Linked DNA regions of Homo sapiens: region 1 is linked to region 2. Evidence: fine-mapped expression QTL. A gene starts in region 2. The other region holds a variant in brackets. All regions are shown on one strand. Distances are from middle to middle. Region 1 overlaps GDNF-AS1 (GDNF antisense RNA 1). Region 2 holds the start of GDNF-AS1 (GDNF antisense RNA 1).

Region 1 (10,402 bases), 26 kb before region 2:
CTTGATATTGCTCCTGTGGTGTGTGCAACATTGCAAGAGTGCAGTGCTAAGCTCTGAAAGCCCCAGATGGCAGCTCAGGGGGAAAATACTATAGAGCAAATTATTTTCTCTATTTCCTCCTCAATCTTGCCCCTCTAGTTCCTAGGGCTTATGAAGGTCAACAGAATGTATCCTTAGAACTGAAAGCTGTTGCTCCTACCTTTTCCACCTTCAGAAAAAAATCATTAGCTGCAGTGCAGATAGTTTCATCACAAAAAAGTAACAAAATTGATCAACTGAAAATCTTTGTGGAAGAAGAGATTTTGTTTTTGTCATCTCCCTTAAGCCCTTTCCATGTTGGCCCGTGCAGCCTGAACATCACTGAGTAGGGAATTTCATACAGGGTTGCAGTAAGTGCTCCCCACAACCCAAAATACCTCCCCCTTAGCCTAATAAAACATCTGACACGCTTGCATGAATCCTTTTAGACTAAGACGCTGAGGCTGAATTGTCCTCTGGGAAAAGAAAGCAAAAATCCAACTGGCCTGCATTACTGAGGAGACCTTGAAAGACTGACGTAAGATAGCCCCCGATGGAAGAAAACGGGCAGGGTCCATGGGGGTGGCCCGCAGGATCACTGTGGACCTGCTGGGGGTGCGACAAAGGACAATGTGAGAAGGAGGAGATAGTGACAATAAACTTTGGTTATGCCAAATTTTCTGAAGAGCCAGCACTTCTTACTGTGAAAAACTGATCTGGAGTGAAGTGATGAATTATCCCATCCAAAATTACCAATTCTTTTCAAGAACTCCTTTCACTTTTATTCAATCCCCTAATAAAAGCAGGCTTGTTGTCCTCATTAAGCCCAATGTATTGGCATCTGAAGTGTATTGATGTACTCGCATGTGATTTCCCTAATTACACTGGAACTTGCAATGCCCAAGAACTCTGCTGATGAAAATAATCCTTCTGTAATATTTCCTTTTTGACTGGGCACCTCTGGGCATTAAAAACACATTTTCAATGAAAACTAGGAAGGGCTTTCTTAGTTCTTATCACATTAATCTTGTCATCTAAACTTTTCTACTGGAAAGCTAGCTTCTTCTATAAATCCATTTCTCAAATTATTTTGGAAGTAACCTAAGATACTACATCAATGAGAAGGCCCAGAGCAGACGTGGGAGGAAGGAAAGAGGAATCAATGACAACCTTCAGCATCTATTCTTTAAGGACTAGCAGCTTAAACCCCCTAAAAAGAACATGTGAATAATCAACTCACTCCTGAAGCTGAAGGGAATAATTCTATCTGAAACAGAAATCCCTCATTATAATATGGTTTTCATAAGCAGATATTTCCAAAGGGACAGAGAGGTAGGGGACAGGGAGATGTCAGAATATATCCATCCAAACCCAACATTGAAAAGCCCGCAAAACACATTTAGCTACAAGTTGGAGTCAGTTCTAATTCCCAGTATGTCACACAGGCGTCTCACAGCATTCACCACAACACCCCTGTGACTGTCCAAGCACATCCACACCTTGCCCTTGGACAAGTCACACCTTGTCCCTGAGTCTAATTTCTCACCCATACAAAGGAAAGGTTTGCCTAAGGGACCTCTGCAGTCTGTCAAAACTATCCTATAATGGATATAGGATATATCCTATAGTGGAATTACCCTGATGCTCTCCTACTGGCCCTGCTGTGTCTTAATTTTTTGGTGCCTTAAGTCCTTACAGCATGACTCTTCTCAAGACTACCCAAGGAAGCACACTTTCAGTGTTTTGCAATACCACATGTTATGGTTTGGCTGTATCCCCACCCAAATCTCATCTTGAATTGTAGCTCCCATAATTCCTACATGTCGTGGGAGGGACCCGGTGGGAGGTGACTGAATCATGGGGGCAGGACTTTCCCATGTTGCTCTCATGATAGTGAATAAGTCTCATGAGATCTGATGATTTTATAAAGGGGAGTTCTCCTGCACAGGCTCTGTTGCCTGCTGCCATGTAAAACATCTCTTTGCTCTTCCTTCATATTCTGCCATGATCATGAGACCTCCCCAGCCATCTGGAACTGTGAGTCCATTAAACCTCTTTCCTTTATAAATTACCCAGTCTCGGGTATGCCTTTATTAGCAGCATGAGAACAGACTAATGCACCACATCCAAAATGCCAAGAGAGAACTTCTTTGGGTGCATATTCAGAGTGGTTCATGGAAAAGCTAACAGTGCAGGCCTACTGCCTGCTGAATGGACCTTCTAAGCACTATCAGTGCAGAATAGCCCAGAACTAAGGGAGATTTTGCCCCTCAGGAGACATCTGGCAAAATCTGGAGACATTTTTGGTTGTTGCAACTTAGTGGGGAAGGGTTGCTCCTGGCATCTAGTGAGTAGAAACCACAGGTGCTGCTAAACATCCTACAATGCACAGGACAGCCACCAATAACCAACAGCCATTCTGCCCAAAATGTCAATAGTGCTGAGGTTGAGAAACCCAGGCCTAGATCGGTAGAACCAGCAGTGTGGGGCAGCCAGCTCTTACCAGTGCATGAGAGTTAAATGTGTGCATCTCTTTCCAGTTCCATGTTCATGAGGTCACTCTGGTAAGATGAAATCTGCCATGGTGGGAGGATTTACACCACAGAAATCAGCAAATCAGCTCTACAAATCAAGGCAATTTTATGTCTGCGAGCGAGTTGTTAAACATTTATCAACACACCGCTAATCCAAACCAGCACCTGAAGTAACTCGGAAGCCCAAAGTTCTTTCAGCAAGAAGGCTATACTGTAGTGAGATGACTTTACCTATGGGAAAGAAGTGGGACTTCCTAACATTACCTAACAACCATGACAAAAAGGAAGGACACAGAATGAGGGACATCGTGGGCAGATATTGGAAGAATCTCCTGTTCTTTGGTTTCATTTGCTTACTTTTAAATATGCACTGCCTTCTTCCAAAGAGCACTTGAGGGGACAATTAGGAAATACAGAACAGGCTTGTTTACTAAACTGCTCAGAGGAAAAGCATAATGGAAAAATAATAATTCAATACCTTTAATTTTGAAAAATTGACGTACAAAAATAAAGATCAACACACAACAGGTGCCAAGCCCGAGGAGCAGGCAAGCTGATCCTTCCGCTCCAGCCCAGCTGCCTGACAGACACATTTCCTAGTGGGTCCTGGATGCTGGCAAATCTGGACTCTACCAGACCCCCCCACGAGGAACCGCAGGGCCCCCTCTTGCCTTCCAGAGCTCCACACGGAGGATGGAATGCCCTACAGAAACTCAAGCCACATTGTAGGGAAACCCTTTTCCAGCTTGCTCTTTATTGCTGTCTTGATATTTGCCTCTGGTTGCTATGGCAAAATCTGGCATTGGAATTTTTCTGGGAACAAATAGGAAATAGTTGTGGGGGAGGTTCAAGATCCTACATACATTTAGGTCTGGTTATAAACACTCATAGTAAAATAAAGCATTGACTCATTAAACCCAAAACAAACCAAAAAAGAATTTTTTTAAATCCTCTTTCAAAAACTCTTACTTTGTTCCAAAGGTGACCAGCTAGAAAGTTGTTTGCCCTTATGGACAAGATCACCAGCAAAATGAACTAACAGGTTAGAGGACCGATCAGTTGGGTTACTGGTCACCCCATGCCAAGTCACACGCTGCCTTTAGCATGTTTCATTTCTGGAGCTGGAAGTGCTCACCCTACACAGAAGAAATTTTCCATTTGCAGGAGTGGATTATTTTTTCCAGCCTCACTGAGGAATATGCCAGGACTGCAGCCATTCAAACTCTGGCACCACCTAAGAAAAGCTTAGGAGGACATGCAGGCCTGTGGCACACCTTGAACCCAGAAGGGCCGGGTGTCTCTTTGTTACTGCCTAGTAATATAGTTTGGATATTTGTCCCCACCCAGATCTCATGTTGAATCGTAATCCCTAATGCTGGAGGAGGGGCCTGGTGGGAGGTGTTTGGATCATGGGGGCAGATCCCTCATGGCTTGGTGCCATCTTCACAATAGTGAGTGAGTTGTTATGAGACCTGCTCATTTAAAAGTCTGTAACACCCCCCACCACCATCCCCAATCTCTCTCGCTTGCTCCTGCTTTCAACTTGTGGCATGCCTGTTCCCGCTTCCCGTTCTGCCACGATTAAAAGCTACCTGAGGTTTCACCAGAAGCTGAGCAGATGCCAGCACTATGCCTCCTGTATAGCCTGCAGAACTATGAGCCAATATAACCTCTTTTCTTTATAAATTACCCAGTCTCAGGTATTTCTTTATAGCAATGTAAGAATGGCCTAATACATCTATCTTTCCCTAAGGCCACTATATCTGAAGAGTTCCTGAATCTCCACTTTTCACCTAAGCCCCAACTGTTCTCTCAGTTCACATCCACAGCTCACATGCCCTGACTTGTCTCCTAGGGCCAGCCATATATTTGGGAAGAAACATTGCCACTCATACACGGTGAATTAAAGAGGGTGAAAGTCCTCTCTGCCCTGTATGAGTTAGCCCGTGTGGCTGGGTGTCCCTAGCATTCAAGGCTGTCATCAAAATACAAAGCCTCCTTAGAGATGTATGGAGAGGTATCATATTGTAGACTTTACCAAAGATTTCAAAGGGGAGATTCTTCAAGTGCCATCTGTCTCCAACCTATCTTTTTTCCATCCTATTTCCTAATGCTCCCCAACAAGCTAGCTC[A/G]GCTCCAGTCAAGCTCATATCTTACTATCTCTTGCATCTACCATAGATGCATCAGAAATAATGATAAAAATATGTTACTACATACAGCAATCTTTACTTATCAGAGTATCTCTAAAAGACAACATATTTGTTTGGAGTAAATACTTAGGTAAGCCATTTGGGAAGGAGAGGAGAGATCTCAAGGTTGTGTTCAAATAGCAAACAGCGGTCACTGAAGTATTATTTATAAAATAAGGGAGGAAAGAAAAAGCAATAGGTAACAGGAGGCAGGGCCTATGTGGGAGGGGACTAAAGAGGTAATACGTATAAGAACAACTACTTTTCTAGAAGTCACCACCACCTGACACTGTTCCAATTTCTCTATATATATCAACTCATTTAATTCTTACTACAATCCGATGAAGTAGTTAATAATATTATCCCCATTGCACAGGTAGGGAAACAAAGCCCCTGAACCCTTCAGTAACTTGCCCAAGGTTACCTGGCTTGTGAATGGTGGAGATAGTAAGTGATGGTCTGACTCCAGACTGTACTTTGAACCACTTTACTCAATGGCCTCAGTGGGGAAGCCTCTGCTTGCAGTTGAGGAAGGACTGCAAAGCAGTAGACTTAAAAGATTTTATCAAATATAAGAAGACATCAACATAAGACACACCATTGTCTTATGTATTGCTACCAAAGGAAACATGCTGCCAATTATACTATGACACACCAACACAGCAAGACAGAGTCTGGTTTCCAAGATTTCAAATACTCAACTAGGAAAAAGGTATATATTGGAAATGATGAACACAGTATCAAAGTGGAATATGAATCTGTTGTGGGGGTTACAGTGAAACCTCCATCATCTTCCCTTTGAATCTCCACAGTAAACTCCACATTTCTCACAAATGCTTTCGTGAGCATTGATTATTGAGAGGAGGTGGTAGCAAGGAAAAACTCCCAGAAGTGCCATTTGTGTGTGTGCACGTGTGCACACGTGTGCAGAGGCAGAGCAAAGACAATTTTAGCAAATTCAAAATGTACTTACCCTACATTTAGTTATGCAAAGAAAATGTACCTTCATTATTTTCTATAATTGATCCAATCTTTCTCCTGAGCTCTTCACTTTACTGAGTAAAGAAGGAGAATTAAATGTCATCTAGTCCAATAATTTTAAATGCCTTCTGGATATTTTGGTATTGCAGCACCCCCTGCCCCCTACCACTGCTCCACTTTCCCATTTTTCTCCAAGATGACTCCTGGGGGAAGGGTCTGCTTCATGGTGGTAGGAAAGGGGAGGAAGGTCCTTGGCCCACATGATTCATATGTGCAGGTTCCTGGCCTGTCCTCCAGTTCATCTAGTTCCCACCCTGGAAGGCCTTGATGCTGAAGTCTGTGGCTGATCTGCCTGCTGTGTGCTTACTGGGGCCATGCTGACCCAGCTCCACTTAGGTCCTCGTAGGAGCTGCATATCCTTCTGAGGTATGGCTATGTCTCCCATTCCATCTCCACCCTGGGCAGTACCCCCGCTGGCAACCCCCTGATAAGCTCATCAGCTGGGACTACTTACTCATGGCACTCACAGCATGCTTGCTCAATGAGCTTGGGTGTCACTTCCAGTTCCTCCCAATCGCAGCTCCTTGCCAGCCACTACACTGAGGCTGTCATATTAAAGAAGCTATTTGCCATCCTACCTCTATCAGGGATCCGCTGAGAGGCTCACCTGTTGGCAGCTACCTGTGCCCAAGAGACAACAGTCACCTGAAGGGGAAATGCAAACATTATACAATGTTGCAATTAGTGTTAATGGAATTAATAAAGATCAAGATCACCTACTGAGCACATTAGCATGCAGATAGCATGTTCTAGTCCTAGTGGATACTCAGTATATTTCCAGCTTAGTCCATGATTTTAGACTGGAGTTCTATGAAGACAGGGACAATGCTTATCTTGTTCATCATTGTATTTACATGCATAATGGGCACTGAATATTTGTCAGATGCATGTTAAAGTTTAAAAGGGAAGAATAGCAAGTCACTTACATTAAAGGATAATGTTGTCTAGGCCAGTGGTTCTTAAGTGGAGATAACTTTATCCCCCAGAAAACATTCGGCAACATCTGGAGACATTTTTGGTTGTCACAACTGGGGAGGGGAAGCTACTGGCATCCAGAAATGCTGCTCAACATTCTACAATGCAAGTGACACCCCCAAAAAAACAAAGAATTATTTGGCCTAAAATGTCAATAGTGCTAGAACTGAGAAACTCTGATCTAAGGATTTGAGAGCTACAGATCATGGTGTGCTGGTAAATGTTAACAACAGGCTCTCTGGATAAGGGAGGGACTCCTGATTCATAATGTTTACCAATTTACATGAAATAAATACTACAACCATGGCTGATTTCAAGCTCCAACGAGACATCATTTTGAAACACACAGTTGGGAAAAGGGCATAGCAGAGCACACTGTTATACAATATTTCCACCCTGCAGTTAAAATAGACTGAAATAACCCCAACAGCATAGATAATAGTAACATATAGTAAAATAATTTGTAAGTAATGAATTTTTATTATTATTATTACTACCTTTGTTTTTAATGAAATATATTTAAATGTAAGTTTAGGCCATTTCACTTTTATAATGGCTGTATTTAATAAGTGGTTCACAACATTCCTGAAACTTTAACATTGGCCTTTGTGAGTCCGTATGAGTGACCCCCAGCATATATCTGGCCAGGGATAATGCAAATGGAAAGAGATAAGTTGAAGGGTTGAAGGGAGGCAAGAGGACACGCTGCAAACATCAAACAGTGCCCTTGGCCCGTGTAGTGAGAGGAGGCTGAAGAGCAACTGCAGAGACATCCTGAAGCACAGAGCACCTTGTGAGATATGAACATGGGAGCCACCCAGAGGAGAAAAGGTGTTGGGATGTGTTCCCTAATGGGCGACCCCACTTGCTCTACTTTGAAACATTAAAAATCCAGCTTCCAGCTGGTTGCGGTGGCTCACGCCTGTAATCCCAACACTTTGAGAGGCTGATGCAGAAAGATCGCTTGAGGCCAGCAGTTTGATATCAGCCTGGGAGGTATAGCAAGACTCCACCCATCTCTACAAAATAAAAATTAAACAAATTAGCCAGTCACAGTGGTGTGTATCTATAGTTCCAACTACTCAGGAGGCTGAGGCTGGAGGATCGTTTGAGCCCAGGAGTTTGAGGCTTGCAGTGAGCTATGATTGTGCCACTGTACTCCAGCCTGGGTGACAGAGGGAGATCCTGTATCAAAATTAAAACCTTAAAAAAATCCCCTCTCATGTATCTATCTATAGACAGATATAGATAGATAGATAGATAGATAGATAGATAGATAGATAGATAGATAGACAGACAGACAGACAGACAGATAGATAATATAGATGGGTAGATAATAGGTAGGTAGATAGATGGATAGATAGATAGATAGATAGATAGATAGATAGATAGATAGATAGATAGAGATATAGGTGATATAGATATAGATACAGATATATTAATAGATATACCCTACTGGTTCTGAGTAACACCATATTAAAAGTAAAAGCAAATGAAAACAGCGTTCCTCAGTACCTCCCCTAACACAAAGAGAGAAGTGAATAGAATTTAAATGGAGGGAAATGTATACATAGTTTCCTATTTTCTTAAGAATTAAACATCGAGGACTGTCTGCTATAGTGTTCTATCACATTGTGCAGGCTTAATAAATAAAGAATTTAAACCAATAAATAAAGAAATTAAATTCTTAATAAATAAAGGATTTAAACCTTCCCCAGGGGAGACAGGAAAATGCACACTGGCATGAGCACATACTGCTCAGGTTAGAGGGCTTCTGTCTGCTCCCCCGGGGAGAATCTGGCCCAGTAAAGGAAGCACTGCTTTCGTGTGTGCTTTAGGAGTCTATCCAGAGCTGCAGTCCTCATGGCTGGAGAAGTGAACAGGGCGCAGAGCTGATCCTGCTAAACTGCATCCACTTCCCGAGGTTTGGGATGAACCCATCAAGGTCTCAAGACAGAAGGCCGGGGTAGCCTAGCTTCTCCCTCTGTAGACTAGGGCTGCTGAATGCAGGGAAGTCCATGTAGCTCCAGAGAGGCCAGCGGGTCTCTCCAAAATCCCATTCCTCCACTTCCAGTAACATCTAACATCTGCCCACCTCAATGGACCTGCTCTCTGTTAAACAAGTAGAGTGTTTGAATTCCACATTTTCCTTTATAAAAATCCTCAGATGGCCAAATCTCAAAAAATATCCACATGTGAACGTGGGATTTGGAAGACAAAATAGAACGGGGAGGAGCGCTGTTACTCTTAGGCCCAGGAAAGGGGCACCCACAGTACTCCTCTGGTTGTGCCCTTTCCTATGGAGTGAAGAGTTGAGGGGCACAGAGATGTACCCACCTGGAGGCTGCAGCCTGCCTCTCCTCTTTCAGACTATGTCTTGGCTACGAGAGACCTTGAATCCCCTGTCCAAGTGGTCTTAAGTCCACTTCCAGAGCTTTCCCCAGGCCTTTTCTCTCCACGGCAGGTCACACCGCCAGTGCACACACCCCTAAGCCATGAGGTGCTGTTTGTGGGATACAGCTTGGATGTGTAGGCTAGGATGTCCACACACATATGTGTACCACCCCCTTATGTGGACTGCCAGGGTGGGAAGAAATGAGGGACAGGCCACAGGCCATGGGCTAAATGTCCACACCCTCTGAGCCACCACATTCCTCCATGGTGCTCCAAAACCCACAGATGCTCAGTGCACAGCAGCCCTTGTGCACAAGTGTCTTTATCAAGGCAGGAGGATGGAGCATCTTTTATTTAACACTTTGCCAGCTTGATTTATCACTTTTAAATATTTAGGTATGGTATATGAGCCTCTGTTTTTACACTTGCAGGGCCCCACAAAAGTTAGGGAAGGACCTGGGGAAGGAAAAACATTTAAGGGAGGGATGGGGGATCATCAGGATCAAAAAGGACCAAAATTGTTTCTTTGCTATGTGGTGCTTAAAATAGTGCCCAGTACATAGTAAGTTTTCAAATATTTGTTGAAAGGGAAAAGTTGGAGGGGGGAGGGAGAGAGAGAAAGAGCGGGGAAGGAATTTGTGTTAAACCTTTCACACTTTCAGGAGTTTGTGACACGGAGTCAGAGAGGTCAGAATTCAAATCCTGTCTTTACCATTCCACTTGTGCATCCTTGGGCAAGTTTTTCAACATCTCTGATCCTCAATGTCCTCATCTGGAAAAAGGAGAAGCCACGCTTATCACATAGGAGAACAAATTAGTATTAACTGCTTACACTGTTCTCAAGACCATCACCATTTTCATTAAATGCTCCACTCCCTCAATCCCATTTAATTTATAAGATGTAATGTGAGTATCAATTTGTTTCAAATAACCTCAAGGAGGCTATTTCTACTGACATGGCTAATGCAGAGAGAGAAATATTTCATGATCAGCCCCACCAACATCCTCAAATGCCCCCCTACCACCATAGCAGGTGCTGCTGGTGCCCACCCATACCCCTAGGCACTCATCACTTCAGTACTCAGTAGTCTGACTTCCAGTTGCCAAACCAGCATTTCTTTGCATAAAGGCATCCTCAGACCTCCAGAGCCCACTAAGCCACTTGCATGGCAGGACTGCCTTCAACCAATGATGGGCAGGAGCTGGTAGAAAACCCTGGCTCTCTTACTCCTAGAGTAAGATAACTATGAG
Region 2 (9,985 bases):
TTTAACCTATACTGGAGTCGGCAAATCATAGCCCTTGCGTCAAATCTTGTCCACTGCCTGCTTTTGTATGGTCCATGAGCTAAGAATGGTTTTTACATTTAAAAATCAAAAAAGTATTTCATAACATGGAAAAAATTATATTATCATTTACATATCATCTATGGGTGCTCTTGCAACACAAGGCTAGAGTTGAGAAGTTGCAACAGAGACAGTATGCCTGCAAAGCCTAAAATATTTACTATCTTTACAGAAAATGTTTGCTAACCCCAGACCTAAGCCATCAGACCATTTGCATAGTAAGAAAGTCTGCCGCAACACTCTCACCTGATTGAAGTTTTATCTCTGGAAAAGAGAAATTTCACAAAGTAATTTCAAGAGCCAAAAACAAAATTAGTGGACAATGAGACAATTTGATCCTAATGAAAGAAACTGCTGGAAATCACTGATAAATCTCCCTTGCCAATGTCAGGATTGATTTCTTATGAGAAACGATTTACTCCAAAGAATTTGTCACTTCCCACTACTTGCAAAAAGGCCATTACAGTGAATTTTTCCCCTTTCTTTTTTTCTTTTCACTTTTTTTTAAGTGGTCTGAAGGCAAATCTATCTTTCCTTCATGAGTAATAGGATCATTCGTGAAAATGGCTGTTAAAAAGCAAGCAAGCATGGAACAAATCGCAGTCCAATAAAGCTGTGACTTTGAAAAGGAAATTGCTCTGCTTAAGTGATGGATTCTGTTTCAGTCCTCACGACCCAAGTTATGAGGCAGTCCAGGGACCGGGGTCCTGGCCCTCATAGTCAAAGCAGCTGCAAAGCCCCACTGGGAGCTCGCCAAGGACTCTGTGAATGGCCAAAAGCTGACCCACCCACCCCATCACGTCTACAGGCTGCAGCCCTACAGGGCCACAGAGGCTGAGCAAGAATGTGGCAGTACCTAGCATCCAGTCTCCTCCAGCGACCCTTTCAGCCAGCCTGGAATGTCCCCTCACCCCCACCTCCTCTCTGCTTACTTACTCCAATCAAGGGCTAGTTTGAGTTCCATAACCTTATAATACCCTGTATTATTTTTCATCATTTTATGGTTGTGTTTTCTCTTCCCAAGGACTGTAAGATCCTTGGGCACAAATTGCACCGATCATTTAGACAACTTTCAGTTAGAGACTCACAAGAAATCCCAGTGAAGAGGACGATAGCGATGAAATAGGAAATTAGCAGGGCTTCGAACCTTTTTTCTCAAAGAGGAGATGGGAGGCTTGAACAATGTTTGTTCTCTCTGATTCTCAGGCAGGGCTTCCTAGATAAAAAGCTGAGATCTGGGGACAATGTGAGAATCCTTAGCAGTATGTTGCTGTTGTTGCTTTATCAGAGGATGTTCTGCCTATTGAGAGCAGAGTCGGTGCTGCAAATTCTTCCCTTCTGGACTTCGCTGAGGAACAGCTTCAAATCAAACTATTCCGTTTCCTTGAGAACAGAGAAGCTGGAGCCTCGGAGCTGTGGGGCTCCCTACTTTCAGCTTATGGGGGCGTGAGACTGTGACATCAGGCCATCCCCTTGTTCCCAAGACACCAAATGTTTGCTTCCCATCTTAACTCTATTCAAGGCAGTCACTTCAGAAGGAACTTTTGCTGAATTCATCTGTATGCTGTAGCCATGTAAATAAATGTTCTTTCAAAATTAGAAATATTTGCTTTAATTCTAAATTAAATTTAACATTTTCCTTTATATTACTGTTTTAAGATACTTTGTATTTTGAAAGGAATTTAATGTTTTGGAAGAGTCTTAGTCTTAGAACCTATCAAAATAGGGCTTCTTCATTTTGCTTTCAAAAAGAATCATAAGATGATTGCAACCACTGGGAAAAGATAAAGCCAATTCACTAACCTGGGAGCATCTGAAAAATCAACTCCTGAGCTCCACCCTTCAAGAGATTCTGATTTAATTGCCCTGAACAAGGCCTAGGTCTGGGACTTTTTTTTTTTTTTTTTTTTGAGACAGAGTCCCACTGTGTCACCCAGGCTGGAGTACAGTGGTGCAATCACTACTCACTGTAATCTCCACCTCTCAAGTTCAAGCAATTCTCATGCCTCAACCTCCCAAGTAGCTGGGATTACAGGTGCCCACCACCACAACCAGCTAATTTTTCTATTTTTAGTAGAGACTGGGTTTCGCCATGTTGGCCAGGCTGATCTCAAACTCCTGACCCCAAGTGATCCACCCACCTCAGCCTCCCAAAGTGCTGGGATTACGGGTGTGAGCCACCACCACTTCCAGCCTACAGGTCTGGGTATTTTTTGAAATCTCCCCAGTGTTTCACTGGCCATGTGAAAATCAGACTCCAGGACATGAGTCTCATATATACTTCTGTTGGAGTATTTATCACTTTATACCATCAATACTCATGAGCATATCTCCCTCTCTGTAGTGGTAGTTTCTGAAGGGCTGGGAGAGGACTGTCAAAACCCAAAGTGCCTACCATTAACCCACCTCCTTCTGAGGGACCATCCTCTGTGGAGGGAATGTGGGGAGGAACTCTAGGAAGTATCTCAAGCAAAGGTGGCCAGGCTGTGTACTCTGTGATGCCAACAACCTGGACATGAATGATTGGCCCAGGATAGGCACCTGCCCCCAGGTCTGCGGATATACAGGGTGTTTTGCAACCTGTAAGGAGACTGATACAAAGGCTCAGTCCAACTCTCACCCCTGGTGAATCCCTAGCAGGACAAACTAGATCCTTTCACTAAAGGAGTTTAAATGTGAGATCAACTGAGAGCTGAGCAGTTGGTAGCAGGAGCAGAAGCCAAAGGACACCCAGGGGAAAACAGCGAGAGAGGAGCTGAATCACCTTGGCGGCTAAGCCGTTAGTGGGGATCGGCAGATGCCTGCTGCTGAGGGGGCAGCGAGATAACCCAGTCACAGAGCTGTATCCTGAATGACCTTCCAGTTCCTGAACTTCAATCCAGTTTTCATGAGGCCTGGCTGGGTGGCCTTTCCGGAAGGCTTTTCGGAGACACGTGGCGGAATGGTGGAGATTCCGGTCAGCCTTCCTTCCACAGTAAATTCCCATTACTGAGGGTAAACCTCAGTGGTATCTGTTCCTTGCAACCCCCGCCCCCCGCCCAAAAAAAAAGCCCAATCAGCACAATGCCCAGGGCCTAGCACTTTGCCTGGCACACAGCAAGTGCTAGATATTTGCAGGTGCTTGGACGGGCTGATCATCCCCAGCAAAAAGCCCTCTAAAAATAAAGAAATCATTCAGAGTAAGAACATTGATGAGGGTCGTCTTCAAATTCCAAAAACAATGCTAAACGGCAATAAATATATTAAGCTTATTCTGCCCTCTAATTTCTGAATCTAACTACATTTCTACCATAAATCTATCAAAGAGGGAAATGTCATTTTCTGCAGAACTCCAGAGAGCATCCTAATTTCAGCTAAGGTATGTTTTGATGACTCGATTTTCACTTCGCTTAATCTTAAATCACAGCAACGTTAGTAAGAACAATTTTCCTCCCACACTCGCTTCACTGACAAACCTGCAAAGTAGCTGATCTTTGACTTTTAAGAAGTTTAATAATACATGATCTTCCCCCCACACTGCCACACGCATTTCCCCTGCCTATTGTCTGTATCAGCTACTTGAAGAACACATACTCCCCAACAACCGGATGAGTCATAAAATAAGAGGTACATGGACGTAAACTGAGCCTGTTTACACTTTCCCTGGCCCCAGCTAATAAAATAAAAGAGGTCCCACTGAATTCAGGTCCAATGGCTTCCGGAAAACAGGTTTCTGCTTAGCAAAGACATGCCCTATTTAGTACATTATTTTAGAGGTACAGCCAATTCCATGCCCCATGTGAATGAAATGTATTTATGGTTATAGCCATGCACAGGGTGTGTAAGGACTTGCCCTCCTCCTGTCCTCTACAAAAGAAGGCTCAGGCAGCTTCTGGTGGTGAACTAACCAACAAAAGGAATGCCCAGAAGGTCTCACCTCTCCCATCCACAGAGCTCTGGAATGGGGGCCGGGCCCCTGATCGCTGGAAACTCAGCATCCAAGTGGGCGCTTGCTGAAGTTTCCCATCTGCATTTTCGAAAATCTGGATAAAAGCAGGTTTAGCTCAACCTCCCCTAACCCGTTCCTGATAAAGTGATCTTACGCCTCTGGAATTGGGATTTTGAATGTATGTGCCTGCCCCATGTCTGGTATTAGATTACAACAGCATGAAAATGGAGCCTAGGACTGAGGAGCCGGCCAGCCTCAGAAGCCTTCTTCATTGCCTGCCATGTAATACATGATATGCAAAGCCTCTGACTTCAGCCAGCAGATATTTGGAGACCGTGTTGGCCTTAGCATGGGGACTAAACTAATGTGTGTTTAGGTCAGAAAGCGAATCAGAAAAGCCACTGGAGGGCACGTCACGGAGTGAGAGCCCTATAAATTCATCCCCACTCGCAGCGTCCCCTGGCAAATACTCGGCTTCCCTCACCCGGCCGCTCCGCACCTCTCCTTCTCGGTGCTAGAACTCCGGCCGGCAGCTCCTTTTCTCGCCACTGCCTCCTGCCCTGCGGAGAAGCGAGAGGGCGAGACACCCGAGCGGGAAGGCCGGCCTTCGACAGGCGCGAGGAAAGCCCGGCGCTGCCCTGCACCGGCAGAGCGCCACCCTCCCAGTGCGGCGCGCGGGGGCAAAGCCCGGCGCGGGCGCCGCGGTCAAGTTCGGATTGCCCCTTTCGGCTGGCCCGCGCAGAGCGCCGCACATTCCTCTCGATTTTTGATCCACCCGGAGAGGAGAAGGCGCTAGCCCCGCGGCGTCTCCGCGCTCTCAGCGCTCTCCCTGCAGCCCAGGGAGGGGCGCCTCGCGTCGCCCACTCGCACCCCGGCCCCCCGCCTCGGGAACTCCAGGGCCTCCTCGCTGCTCTCCTCTCCTCCCCCACCGCCAGGCCCAGCCGACGCCTCCCGACCCCTCCCTCCCGGGGCCCCGCGCCTCCCCTCCCCCACCCCGGACCCCGGACCCCCAGCCCGGGCTCTAGAAGACCAGCCTGCGCTCCTGGCGCCCTCATGTCTTCACGGGACTCCCCGCGCCGGTTGACGTGGTGTCTCGTTCGGATCTCCAGGCAAGACCTCAGCTCCGGCAGCAGCATCAGACAAACCAGTCTCGTGCTCCCAGGCAGTGCGCCCAGAGGAGGCGCAGAGCGCGGCAGCTGCCGCTGAGCCGCCCGCAGCGCCCCGGGCCCGCGCAGCCCCAGCCAAGAGCGCGACGCGCGCAGCCCTGTCAGCCCCCCACCCAAAGCAGCGGCGGCTGCTCGGACCTCGGCTTCTGGGGGTGCGGGGGCCCGGCGGGAGAGTTGCCGGCAGCCCTCGCCCTGTTGGCGGCGGCGGCGGCGGGAGTCTTGGCCGCCGCCTCCAGCGCGCCCTTGCTGCCCCGCGCGACCCCAGGATTGCGAACTCTTGCCCCTGACCTGTTGGGCGGGGCTCCGCGCTCCAGCCATCAGCCCGGATGGGTCTCCTGGCTGGGACTTGGGGCACCTGGAGTTAATGTCCAACCTAGGGTCTGCGGAGACCCGATCCGAGGTAAGTGAGGGAGCGGGCCGGGGAGCAGGGAGCGGGTGGTGCCTGCGTCGCGGGTGGGTGCGGCCGGCTGAAGGGCGCCCTAGTCAGAGGGGTGCGTCTGGACCCCAGAGCAAACGGTGAGAGTAGAAAGTGGAAAGACTAGAGGGAACCTAAGCTATGCGAGGAGAGAGAAAAGTAGAACCGGAGAGAGGCCGGCCTTTCGGAGGGGCATGTTGCCTTTTCCACGTGGGCAAAGATCTGTGGAGCCCCAGATGCGCCTGGACCCGGAATGCCCAAGAGGGGCAGTTTCCTTCCCCGACTCGGCCAGGTGCTCTTCCGTCAAGTCACAGAACGATTCAGGGCTTGGGTCATCTTCGAACCCACCGCCGTCGAAATGTGTCCTCTCTGGACGTGCAGAGATACTATCATTGCCAAGAGTGCAACTTACTATTGAGCTTGTTTTGATCTGTGCCAAGGAAAAGCGCAGGCCGGGGGAGGGGCTGCTGCAAAGGTGCTGAGAACCTAAAAATGGAGGGCTCACCTCCTCCGGGCGAGGTCTGGCAAAGCTACATTCCTCACCCGGTTGCCTGCACGTTCCTAACGCCCTCCACCCCAACTAACCATCCCCGTCGAGGTTAGGAGAGGGGCTTTCTTGCCAGTCCTGGATTCAAATCTCTGTCTCGAACGTATTCTTGAGACTCCACTAGGCCATTGAGGTTATTATTTTAATGACCCCTTTTTCTCCTGTACTCTGTGCCGCCTTCCAAAAACACCCCACCACCACTGCCACTACTTTACACCACCTCGAGGCTAATTCCGCACTGGTGGTTTGTTTCCTGCCCCAACGAAGAAAAACGAACCCTCTTCGGGCTGGAAACGGACTTTCGCGGGTTCCCGCCAGCTTCCTGGGGCCCAGCTAGTTTCGGCTTTGGTAGAATCCGCCGCCAGGACCCATGTGCGCGCCCCCGGGGGGCTTACCCATCCCAGAGCTCGCGACCCTTCTGCTCATAGGCGGGGACAAAGGCAACTCTTCCGGCCCCTGCTGCGGAGATGTTAGAACGCGCTCGACTCTTGCTCAGTGTTTGGAATATATGCTTAGGTATTTCAAGGAAGAGATGTTTCTTCCAACCTCATTCACGCACCCAGTCCCGCAAAGCCGTCAAAGCCGGCCTCGACCAAACTCGTACTGTTTCGCTGCGCCTTCGCTTTGTCAGGGAAGGTGGCGCCTTTTCAACAAGTAACAAGTGTCCGATCTCTGGGAAGTCCGCCGTGTCCCTAGCCCTTTCCCGCTAGCAATTCGGGTGCTCTCGGGCCTGGAACCTGGCCCTTTAAACAGACCGCTTTCCCAGTTTGCCTGCGAGAAGTGTCCCAAATTCTTTTTCCTTCCCTCATCTTGGGCCCCGCAGTTATGGGGGGTTGAGGGGAGAATAAGTCCTCTGTCAGTCAAGGACACGAAGCATAGTTAAGAAAAGCAATAGATCTTCCAGCAATTTCTGTCTCTACCTCCCCCCGCCAAAAAAAAAAAAAAAAAAACCGAGTTTATAGCAAACCCGTCTCCCCGCCCCACCGCCTCCTTTTTCTCTCTCTGAGACCTGGATCTTGAAGGCAAAGCCCAAACAAACCTCCCAGCCTGCCAGGCACAAGAAGGTGCGGGGGCACTGACGGCGGGAGCGCTGCCTCCTGCGAATCTGTCACGGTGACGCGTGGAAGGGGTGAGGGATGGTCTGAAAGCAGGTTGCCAAGAAACCCGCTCAGGTGAAGTGGGGAGAGGAAAACCAGCGAGAATGGAGGGGTGGGAGCCTGAAAAGCAGAGATGCCAGTAAGGACCTCCACAGGTTCCCGGGCTAATGGGATTTCGGGAGGCTCGTAGAGGGAGTGGTGGTTCTCCGGTTTTATAACTAAAATGATAACACAGCCTCCGGGCCGCGTGGGCGCGACACGGCTCAGACGGTTTCTGGTGCCCCCTGCTGCCGGGAACTCAGAAGTGCCTCGCGGCGAGCGGCTGCTTCTGCGAGCACTTCTGTGGCTTTCCTGGGCGTCCTTGCCTCCCCAGGCCTGGGGACCCACAGGTGCCGGCGCCCACGGCCTGCTGCTTTTGCCCTGCCGGGACGTGGTGGTCCCGGACCCAGAAGGGGACCAGCTTGCCAGGCACGAGAAATGGTGCGCGGTCACCTGGCAGAGCAGAGCCCCCGTCACTTGAGGAGCAGAGCTTGGTTCTCGCACGTGGCGGCGCGTAAAGCAGTTTGCACCGCGGGCAAAGGCCCATGGTTGAGGAGAAGCGCGTCGGGCAGATGTAGATGTGTTTTGGGAAAGCGATAGAGAGACAAACTGAGAAGCCGAGGGGTGGAGCCCACACGGACTCTAAGAAAAACGTCCTAGTAGACGCTGTGTGTGCCGAGTCCCCCAACCTCCCCCCTTTTCCCCCGCCCAGCAAATACCGAGAACGAAAGAGCCCCTCGGACTGGAGCCGGTCCCGGCGGCGCTCAGAGGGAAGAATGCGCCCTCCCTGTCCCGGGGGAAGAGGGGAGCTCGATCCGGGCGCTGGCGGCGCTCGGCCGAGGGCGGGAACCGCAGCCGGGAGCCTCCTCTGGCGACGCGGGGAGTTTTCCACTGTGTAGTCTTTTGCCAGCTTCGCCACACTTCTAATTGAGGATCTCCACGTCCAATTTAAAAAGCCCTCCGTCGGCCAAGCAGGAAAAAAGGGAAAACCCTCTTAAGACGGAAGGGAAATCTAGTGCCTCTGTGGCTTCCTGCTGGCGGGCACCGCGATTTGGAATGGCGCATTAACCCCGCGCCTCCATGCTCCTCCGGTCGGACCGCCAGCCATTTCGCACGCACCCGGGAGCTGGCACCGGCGGGGGGCTTGAGGGGGGAAGCTCGCGTTCCCCAGGTCCTAGCTGCCAAAGTACCTTTCTGGGCTCATTTTGCATGGCCTGGTGCAGTTTTCCTGTGTCTGCACATCGCGACCCAGAACCTAGCTTTTTCCCGAGTTTGCAAACCAGCCCGCGAGGCAAGAGGCGCTCGGTGCTGCAGGTCACTAGGAGTTTCTAGTCCCTACACCCTCTCGAGCCCAACAGCTGCATAGCGAACAAACAGACGCTCAGGAGATGTAAAATGCATTAGTCTCTGCAGAGGTGGGAGGTGGCGGCCGAATTAAAGGCTTCCCCGGGTTGCCTGCACCGGGACAGGGAGTGGGGTTCCGGGTAGAGATGAGGACTGGAACCCTGGAATGGAGGCGGGGGTGCCTGTGAACTAATGGCTAGGAAAGGCACTGAGGTTTTTGCATTAACCTGGGTTTTGCATTTCCCTCCCGCATGGGAAAAAAAAAATCGAGTTTTTCCTAAGAACCGTTTTATGGAGCCGGTCGAGGGGATAGGATAATCGACTGCACGAATCTCGCAGATTCCGCTTGAGGAGATTCTCTCTAGGTCACTAGTGCCCTGGAGACGAACCCTGGGATTAGGAAGGCACTGGATAACACTGCACCCCAAGATGCCTCGGTTCTTCCCCGTCTCCTCATTGGTTGGAACTCGCCCCCAAATTTACAGCCCCTTTTTCTAACCCACCCCCAGCTGCGTGGCCCTCCTTTGTAGGGGTGTGAGGATTGAGAAGCCAAACAGAGCCCACCTCGGGCTGAAAAGAGCTGAACCCCCTACTCTGCGCCGTACCACGGTCTAGGCCTTCCAGTGCCAGAGCACCTCCAAAGCGTCCGAGACTGGGTACAGTCGTCCAGGCGTGACGGGGGCGCGGGGAGCCAGTGACTCCTCTGGGAGGGGAAGGGATTAGGGCCAGAATCTCTCAAAGGTGCAAAAATCCAGTCAAGAGAGGGTTTTCGGGTATACCACGGAGGATTAAAACTTTCAAGACAAATGCAGTCTTTGCCTAACAGCAATGGTAAAGCATTTACTGAGCTCTTACTACATGTTCCGCTAGAGCTTGTCATGCGTGATTTAATGTTCATAACTTTAAGAGGTGGGAGGAGTATTTTAAATCGAATCAGTGCTTTGGGAAGTTAAGTAACTTAAACCAGATATCCCATACAGGCCAAAAGTCTCCAAGTCCCTGCTAACTTCTTGCTCTCGCAACAGAATACCTATTTAGGTGGGAAGAATGAGGTGTGGGCGGCAGGCTGGGTGAGTGGTGCCCCCGAGCCTGCCCTCGACTAGCCAGAAGCCCGGTTGGGACCCGAGGCAGGGGAATGCGCTTGATTTTATTTCCAAAGAGAAACACCGTCCTTGCTTGGGCCGAGGGCTCGTTCAGGGGCCTATAGGAGCTACCGGGACAAGAAGGGGAGGTCTCTGGTTGGGGTGGAGGACGAAGGGTGGGAACTACCCGATTGCCCCCCAGGAATGGGGGATGTTGCGCACCAGTAGAGGGGACTGGACAGGAATCGTGGTGGTGGGGGTGGGGGGTTAACTGGAGGGGACAGCAGCC

Evidence for each region.
Region 1: its variant is fine-mapped to the expression of GDNF-AS1 in cerebellar hemisphere (GTEx, PIP 0.98).

Annotation. Positions count from the first base shown.
Region 1 is chr5:37,860,782-37,871,183 of GRCh38, reverse strand. The region is part of intron 1 of GDNF-AS1 (GDNF antisense RNA 1); the gene reads right to left. Among named protein-coding and RNA genes, the nearest start is that of GDNF, 26 kb to the right of the region's middle. The variant A/G (reference allele first, on the strand shown) is at 4,685.
Region 2 is chr5:37,835,094-37,845,078 of GRCh38, reverse strand. It overlaps GDNF-AS1 (GDNF antisense RNA 1), which reads right to left and starts at 5,195. Exons shown (of 4, transcript NR_145476.1): 1 at 5,041-5,195. It overlaps GDNF (glial cell derived neurotrophic factor), which reads left to right and starts at 5,038. Exons shown (of 3, transcript NM_000514.4): 1 at 5,038-5,572. RefSeq lists enhancers at 5,177-6,114, 7,572-7,641, 7,993-8,931.